Linked DNA regions of Homo sapiens: region 1 is reported to be linked to region 2. The links are microRNA targets in miRTarBase. Many come from high-throughput screens and were not tested one by one. Region 2 holds a microRNA gene; the other region holds the end of a gene's coding sequence.
The links. The annotated mature microRNA hsa-miR-654-5p reads UGGUGGGCCGCAGAACAUGUGC and lies in region 2 at 2,148-2,169, shown strand. An mRNA with a match to its seed (bases 2 to 7 or 8) in the 3' UTR can be bound and repressed. Matches are read on the target gene's strand: a 7mer-m8 pairs with bases 2 to 8, a 7mer-A1 pairs with bases 2 to 7 and ends in A, and an 8mer does both.

Region 1: the mRNA of CCSAP is a reported target of hsa-miR-654-5p. Seed matches in the 3' UTR shown: 7mer-m8 at 1,580-1,586.

What each region holds. Positions count from the first base shown.
Region 1 is chr1:229,321,420-229,325,815 of GRCh38, reverse strand. CCSAP (centriole, cilia and spindle associated protein) reads left to right here. Exons shown (of 4, transcript NM_145257.5): 4 at 405-4,396. The coding sequence ends at 581. Among named protein-coding and RNA genes, the nearest start is that of CCSAP, 19 kb to the left of the region's middle.
Region 2 is chr14:101,038,087-101,042,482 of GRCh38, forward strand. It overlaps MIR654 (microRNA 654), which reads left to right and starts at 2,133; the gene lies at 2,133-2,213. It overlaps MIR376C (microRNA 376c), which reads left to right and starts at 1,604; the gene lies at 1,604-1,669. It overlaps MIR376A2 (microRNA 376a-2), which reads left to right and starts at 1,983; the gene lies at 1,983-2,062. It overlaps MIR376B (microRNA 376b), which reads left to right and starts at 2,350; the gene lies at 2,350-2,449. It also overlaps MIR376A1 and MIR300.

The DNA of each region.
Region 1 (4,396 bases), not on the chromosome of region 2:
GTATACTGATGTTAAACATTTAAAGTTCTTTTATTTTCCCTGCTTTTTATGAGCTGTTTATAAGTCGTTAATTAAATACTTATGTTTAATGCTAAGCAGTTCGGACAGTTTTCCAGAGCCAACTCTAGAGGCACATGCAAATTAGTTGCTTACCATTTCTGTCTAACATTTAATTTGCTGTTGCTTAGTTTCATTATCCCTGATATGAATCAAGTGAGAACAGCATCAAGTGAGAATGGCTCTTCTGTGGAAGGTTTTATGTAAAGAAGAACTATATAGAGAGGCAGGGCTTGACTCTGCCCTGCTGCAGTTGACCTGGCAGTAGCCAGCTTCATTGCAACCTCTGTTGAACATTAGTATAATAGCCCCTTAAGTTACTATCCTTTATTTTGAACTCTCTTTAGATTCATGAATCAGCATTACGAGCCAAGAACAGAAGACAGGTGGAAAAAAGGAAACTGGTTGCTCAAAGGCAGCGAGCTCACTCTGTGGATGTGGAGAAGAACAGAAAGATGAAGGCTTCCTCCTCAGAGAACCCGTGGATGACAGAATACATGAGGTGCTATTCGGCAAGAGCTTAAAGAAACACTTGCGTGGACAGCCTCTTTTAAAAAGTGTAAATGACTGAAAGGAAAAACAAAACAAAAACCATCAAAAGAAACGGACACAGGTTTAAGAAACCAACTGATTATGCAAGGTTTTTTTTAGGGAATTTGTAAAAGATTGTTTTATTTTGATGAATATTGGTCACCTACCTCGGCAGTAGGGCAGACAGTTGAAGCCATAGACATTTGGTTATTTATGAAGATAATTCCCTAAATCTTTGATATTCTTATAAGGTTTTTGTTTTAAAGCATCTTAATCTTTTAAGATACTGACACCAAATGCCTTTAAATGGCAACAGATGCTTACAGTTCAGTATTCTTTTCATAAGCTTAGGTAGAGCCTATTATCATCTTGTTCTAAATAACTTTCCAGATTCCATAGCTATAAGATCATTCCATCCTACAGCATAAGACTCGTTTTCCTTATATGCCGTTTTGTTTGTGAAAGAATATCAAGTCAAAAATGAGTGTCAGCACTACTACTGATTCCATGTATAATGAAAGTAGAACTTTGCTAGTTCCTGAAAATTTTTAACTTATTTGTATTTCAGTTCAGCAGCATCTTTATGTAGATTGTGATATTTAAGAATTATCTGGGCTGGGCGAGGGTCTCTTTTTCTCTTTCAGTGATCATCTAGGCAGTTATTATTTAATAGTTTAATAGCTCAAGTACATTCCAATAGACGAAGTGCACACAACACAATATGTGTGTACAGTAGTAGTAAAGTTTCTTTTGAGTAGTCAAAGACTCACTTTTTTTATTGCCTTTTTTTTTTTTTTTAAAGAATACATACTGTGGATTCAGTCCCTTGTCACACTTGACCTTTTGGCATACACCCACTGTGGACTTTTGCCTCTTCTGTAATGGCTGGCAATGACATTTCAAACTTACAATCTGGAATTGCACTTGGTACATTGGCATTGCTTGTTCCACTGGGATGGGGACCAGTGTGAAGATGCCTGTTAGATAGACTGCCCACCCCTACTTTCTCTTTTTCTTTATAGCACTTAACAATAACAAAGTCTTGATGATGTACAGTATTCAAACTTTAGGTTGAAATACGTTACTCTTTGATTCCTAGCCAGTAGATCTTATCTACACTTTAATGGGAGAGAATGGTGGTGTGTGGGTAGGCACAAATTTATGTAAATAGTGCTCCTTCTCTTTAGTATGTTTGCTTTGGGGGTAGAAAAATGGTTTTAACAAACACTGGTTTCCATCAAATGAATGATGTCTTCTCCATCCTGTGGAGACAAGAATCTGCTAGAAGGATATGTGCTAAGTTCCTTATAAGAGATAATGGTGCTCTGCCTATGCCAGCTTGGCACCCGAAGATGTGTGAGTGGACGTGAGGCTGAGTATTACCTTAGTATTTTTCTCTGGGTCTTTGGAAAACCATAGTCAATTTTTAGAACATATTGCTTTCATTCCCCATAAACTCTTCACACATGATAACTGTTTAAGCTTTGAAAACACATACTGAAGTATTGTGAGCTTAAAAAAACTTTTTAAATATTTGCATAGTTTTGAGGTGAATTTGTTTCCTTACAGATCTCTCCTAATCATTGAGATGTATATTTCAAAAGAGGAAATTTTACATGTTGTCCAAAACAGCCTTGCTAGTAACTGGTGAATTTTGGTATTAACTATTATTAAAGTCTTTAAACGACACAGGTACCTAAAGATCACCTTAATGTGGCAATTTGTGATGGTGTAGCTAGCTGATTGTGAAAACTGTTCCTTTAAAGTCGCTTCTTGCATGTTCGGTGTTAGTCATCCAGCTCAGGCTTGTGTTGCAGCTGACAATCTAGGAAAGACGGCCTTAGAGAGTGGTGCAGGCCCCACACTGACGGACTGCCTTAGAAACCCGACTTCCTCTAGACTTTGAACCGCCAGACTTTTCTCTTGTTTAGAAAACAAACTTATATTTAATGTACTTACTACTTAAAACTCCAGACAGAGATATAATGTAGAAGGCAAATATTGGCCAATTTTTTCCTCTTTTTAAGTGGAAGACAAATGAACGGGATTTTTAAAGTGCTTTTAAAGTGCATGAATGGTTAATAAATCAGTATGAATTGTAAGCCTTCATCTTACATCCAAGTCCTTAGTTGGTTAGGGTTTCTTTTCTTTCTTTTTTAAAGAGTGTCAATTACCTTTTGAACCTGTGAAAATTTGATAGTTGTTAACAGTCTGATGGTCCTAATTCTTTCTTTTCATTCTAGAAATGAATGTGGTTGTAATCATGTTCCTAATTCTTGGGACAACCTGCAAGACAGTGAGACAGTTTAAAAATTACCTTTCATGTTGAAAAAGTCTGAAACAGAGAACCCAATGATATTTAAAATAAATGCTACATAAAACTCTTTTTAAAATTTTGATTTTAACTTAATTAAAACAATGTCATAAATATGCTTTTTGATTTTGTTACTGCTTTTAATATTAAAGTAATAGAATATTGAAGCAATATTGTCTAGCACTCTGCTGGACATTAAGTCCGCGGGAGGAGAAGTGAACAGGAATCGATTCTTTGTCTTTTAACTGCCCTTAGTTAGGAGATGTTAAAATACTTGGCACCTCTGGTTATATGTATGTTATGTGTGTTCTCCCCCCTAAAATTTCTAAGCACATTTATTCACTTTTAAAATGAATCTTTAAAAGATTATAGTTAGTAGTTATAGTTAATATTCTATTTACTTGGAAAAATGTGAATAAATGGATCTTCAAAAGATTCATTTTAAAAATGAATAAATGTATAATAGGCTATAGGTGATCTTACTTGCGTATTAGGTAGGAGGCACATATTTATACCATTTCATATGTAATATCTTTGTCATTGTGTTTCATCGAAGATCAATTGCTAGCAACTTGAAGGGTATTTATACTTGGGTCACTTGAACTCAGCTGACTAAATTGTAAGAACGAGAGCAAGCAAGATGGCTGTTATTGGAAGCCATAACTTCCAGAAGATAATTCTGCACAATTCGTAAGTTAAAAAAAATCTGTAGGGTCTTCCACTATCCTTTTTCAGGTTGATAATGCTGTTCTGGGCACACACTTTGTAAATGGAATGTTATGGTACAGTCGCCTCTCAGTATCCATGGGGCATTGGTTCCAGGCCTCCCTTAGGATGCCAAACTCCATGGATACTCAAACCCCTTCTATAAAATGGTGTAGTATTTGCATATATCCTAGACACATCCTCCTGTATGCTTTAAATCATCTCTAGATTACTTAAAATACCTAATACAATGTAAATGCTCTGTAAATAGTTGTTATACTATATTGTTTAGGGAATAATGACAAGGAAAAAAAAGCCTGTACATGTTCAGCACAAGTGAAACCATCCTTTTTGCCCCCAAATATTTTCAATTTGTATTTGGTTGAATCCATGGATGCAGAACTCACGGATACAGAGGGCCGACTGTACTTTCTTTAAAGTGTTCAAAAGTATTACTAGCAAAGAGGAGGAGGAGCAAAGCATATATCAGAAGTAAAACAATTTTTCTTGTTGACTGCTTTGGTAAAAAACAGTTTGATGGATAGTTTTACATTTCACTGGACTAGATAAAAAATGGTGCTAATATTTATGTAGCTTGATGCTATAGTTGCTTTGGTATCAAACTTAATACCTAACCCATATAAGATCCTTATTATATAATTTTGTGATCAGTAAAATGATATTTTAAAGAGTGATCTTAAAAATATGACCTGGTCATTGCACAACGTTTGCATTTGAAATGAATTTTTGTACTATAGGGTGGATATGGAGTTATTCAGTGCAAGTGTG
Region 2 (4,396 bases):
TGGGAGGCATGTGTTGTCGCTATTTTAGTAAGCCTCTGCATCCACTCCACCCCAAAAATGATTTTTCTGGAAGCTGTGATCATTGTTTTTGGAGGGTGGTATTAGTGGTGGTGGTGGTGGTGGTGGTGGTGGTGGTGATGGTGGTGGTGGTGATGGTGGTGATGGTGGTATTGGTGGTGGTGGTGGTGGTGGTGGTACTGATGGTGGTGGTGGTGGTGGTGGTGGTGGTGGTGGTGGTGGTGGTGGTACTGATGGTGGTGGTGGTGGTGGTGTTGGTGGTGGTGGTGTTGGTGGTGTTGGTGGTGGTGGTTGTGATGGTGGTGGTACTGGTGGTGTTGGTGGTGGTGGTGTTGGTGGTGGTGGTGTTGGTGGTGGTGGTTGTGATGGTGGTGGTGGTGGTGGTATTGGTGGTATTGGTGGTGGTGGTGGTGGTGGTGGTACTGATGGTGGTGGTGGTGTTGGTGGTGGTGGTGTTGGTGGTGGTGGTGGTGGTGGTGGTGGTACTGGTGGTGGTGGTGGTGGTGGTGTTGGTGGTGGTGGTGTTGGTGGTGTTGGTGGTGGTGGTGGTGGTGGTGGTGGAGGGTGGTGGTGGTAGGGGCTGGTGAGCATCATGTTTTGCTACCTCTCTCAGTTGTATTTAAAGAGACATTGTTTTTGACCTGTTTGCCTATTCCTCAGTCTGTCACACCAACATGACCAGTCCTGCCGATTGAAACTTTCTGGACACAAGCTTCAGTCTCTGGAAGATTCTTGGGTGTCCTTCTCCCTCCAAGGTATGTGAAGGATGCTCCAGCCCACAGTTACATGACATTGGTCATTAGGTGCCTTGGGAGGGCTTCATGGAGGCGATGTGACTTTAGGAACCTGACAGGCTTATTTTCTTTTTGTTTTTGATATTTTTCGAATTCAAAGCATAGAATCCCTACTTTGCCTGCTTTACTTGTGGCAAATTTTTGATGTACATTCACTTTTTTTTTTTTTTTTTTTCAGAATTAAATGCTACTTTGGAAACGCTCTTGACCATGAAGCCTCCATTAGGGAAGAGACATTAGGGTTACCCCCACCCAGACGAGTGACAGCAGGGCAGACCCCAAACTTACGTTTGCCTGCATAGGAGTTCCATCTCTGGATGTGAAGAGGCCAGGGGTGGGCCCTGCGCTTCCCACGTGGGACTCGCAAAGTGCTCACCTGCTTCTGTTACCTTCTGTCTTTCATGAATCATGTTTGCGTTTGTGCTCTCCAGGGCTGTTCCCACTTTTCCCATCTAAAAGGTGGATGTTCCTTCTATGCTTACAGGATTTATGGTGAATCATAGAGGAAAATCCGCATTTTCAGTATCTAAGGCTGCTTTTAAAACATTTCTGAACATTTCTGAGAGGAAGGTTAGCTCCCTCCCCCATGCGGAGAGTGATGGAAGGTGAATCCCAGAACCTAAGCTCTTGTTAGCAAGGTCTGTCCTGGGACATGCGTCCTCCGCAGGGCCCATGTCACTGCCGCTAGCCCGGGAGGCCCCTGCCGACTGCACCTATCCTGTGCTGTCTTTAATTTTGATAGATTGTGCTTAGGTTCATGCTTTCCAGGACTCAATCCTTCTTTGGTATTTAAAAGGTGGATATTCCTTCTATGTTTATGTTATTTATGGTTAAACATAGAGGAAATTCCACGTTTTCAGTATCAAATGCTGCTTGGAAACATTCCTGGACTGAAACCACCATCAGGGAAGAGACAATAAAGTCCCCCCCCCCACTCCAGGGTAAGTGGAAAGTCGGTGGACCTCAGAACATGTGCTGAATTCGTGCCATATGTCTGCGGACCACCCACCCGCCTTGAGGAGACCCCTCTCGCAAGCTGCCCGCTCGGCCAAGCGGCTGGGCTCCGTCGTCATTTTCTCCATGAGGCCGAATGCTCTCCTCTGTGCTATGTTACTTTTGTGTTTGATGGATTGTACTTAGGTTCGTGCTTTCCGGGATGAAACCTTCTTTGGTATTTAAAAGGTAGATTTTCCTTCTATGGTTACGTGTTTGATGGTTAATCATAGAGGAAAATCCACGTTTTCAGTATCAAATGCTGCCTTGGGATCATGGCTGGACTGAAGCCACCATCAGGGACGTGAGGTGGGGCTGAGCCCTCCAGGGTAAGTGGAAAGATGGTGGGCCGCAGAACATGTGCTGAGTTCGTGCCATATGTCTGCTGACCATCACCTTTAGAAGCCCCCTTTCGCTGAGGAGCCAGCTTGGTGCACAGGCTGTGGTGTGTTGTCACAGCTATGCTACGGGACTGAAAACGGTTGCTTTACTGTCTTGCTTCCATTTTCCATGAACTGTGTTCAGATTTGTCCTTTCCAGAGCCCAGTCCTTCTTTGGTATTTAAAACGTGGATATTCCTTCTATGTTTACGTGATTCCTGGTTAATCATAGAGGAAAATCCATGTTTTCAGTATCAAATGCTGCTTTGGAAATGTTTCTGGAAGAGACCGTAGGGCCTGAGTAGGTGCAAAGATGGTAGGCCGCACGTCGTATCTGAATGAACGGGGTATGCCCGAGAACCATCTCGAGACGCCAACTTGGTGAAGATTAAATTGTGGGTCTCGTGGTGCCAGTTCTTCCCTGGAAGCTCGTCTGCCTCATGTGACTTTCTTTTCTGATGACTCAAGCACAGGTGCACGCTTTCCTGGATGGAATCCTTCTTTGGTATTTAAAAGGTAGATTCTCCTTCTATGAGTACATTATTTATGATTAATCATAGAGGAAAATCCACGTTTTCAGTATCAAATGCTGCTTTGAAAACCTCGGAGGACGTGAAGTCGCCATGGAAGAGGAGATGTTATCTGTACCCCTCCTGGGTACAGGACGGACAGACACAGAATTGTACTTTGTATGAAATACGCCGTCAGCTTCTCTGCTGTTTGCTCACTGCCCTTGGTGCACACATAATGTGTTGTTACAAGGCTGTGTTCTCAGTATTGCCTCATTGACCTTGAATGAAGTTTGTTCTCTGTATGTTTACCATGATTGCAATGCATTTTCTGGAATGAACCTCTTTTACTGTGACTAGTTGTACCTTAGAGAATACCTGAGTGGGCTGTCAATTTCAGGAAGGGGCACTGCTTCAGGGGCTATGGAAGGAATAGATGTGTGATTCACCCACGGGCCTGCACTTCACACCTCGGTGTGCTGCTCTCACCATGCAGATCCCATCTGTGTCTCTAAGGCTTGCTCCTGGAGCTGGTGGCAACTTAGTCACAGAGGAAATGGCCTTCCTGTCACTGCCATCATTTGCTACTTGAAGAGAGGTAATCCTTCACGCATTTGCTTTACTTGCAATGATTATACAAGGGCAGACTCTCTCTGGGGAGCAAATCCTGCCTGGGAAGCCTTCTTGGGAACAAGGCTGACTCCAGCAACCTGTTAGATGGCCAGGATAGCCCTGGGGTGTGGATGGTTGACCACAGGGCATGTGCCTCTGTCTTGCTGTTTGTGACCTGGTTCTCTGACCCTCCTCATCTCATGCTTCCTTCCAAGAACTTTCTGGAAGAGATGCTGGCTTTGGAGATGATATAGGGTTTTCTCTTCAGACCACCTGTTCTGCCTAGCAAAAAGGGCCTACCTTGGCCGGGCACGGTGGCTCACGCTTGTAACCCCAGCCCTTTGGGAGGCTGAGACGGTGGATGGCTTAAGCCCAGGAGTTCGAAACTAGCGTGGGCAACTTGGCGAAACCCCATCTCTGCAAAAAATACAAAAATTAGCTGGGTGTCATGGTGTGCGCCTGTGGTCCCAGTACTTAGGAGGTTGAGGCTGGAGGATCACTTGAGCCCGGGAGTTGGGAGGTTGTAGTGAGCCAAGATTGTGCCACTGCACTTCAGCCTGGCTGACAGAGACCCCTGTCTCAACACAATAGGTTAAAAAAAAAAGAAAAGAACAAAGGGCCTCCCTTGATGGGCCCTACTTATCACAAAGCATCCATGGGCTGCTACTCCGGCAGGTCTGCCCAGCATGATGCCAGCCTCTGAGAAGAGGTCTCGTGGTCAGTGCATCTCCCAGATACATGAAAGAATGACCGTCAGCAAAGTCAATGTCTAATGTAGATGTGGGTCATCTGGTCTACCCACTCTCCATACCTAGCCCATCCTTGGAGTGACTTTTGGACCTCACTGTCCACTTGAGGGAAGGCCAGTCCACAGGAAGGAGGCCCCAGAGCACCCAGTGTGGCTACAGGACTTGCTGCTGGGACCTCTAAGCCCCACTGCTCTCTTAGTCCATTGGTGTCCTTTAGGGATTCTTGCCAATGGAAAGACCCTTGGATTCCTGGTGTTAGCATGTGTTTATTCAGAGAGAGTTGGCCCATGAGAATCTCATTTTCCTTTGACGAATCTTGCCCTAGATGAATACTTCTGAGT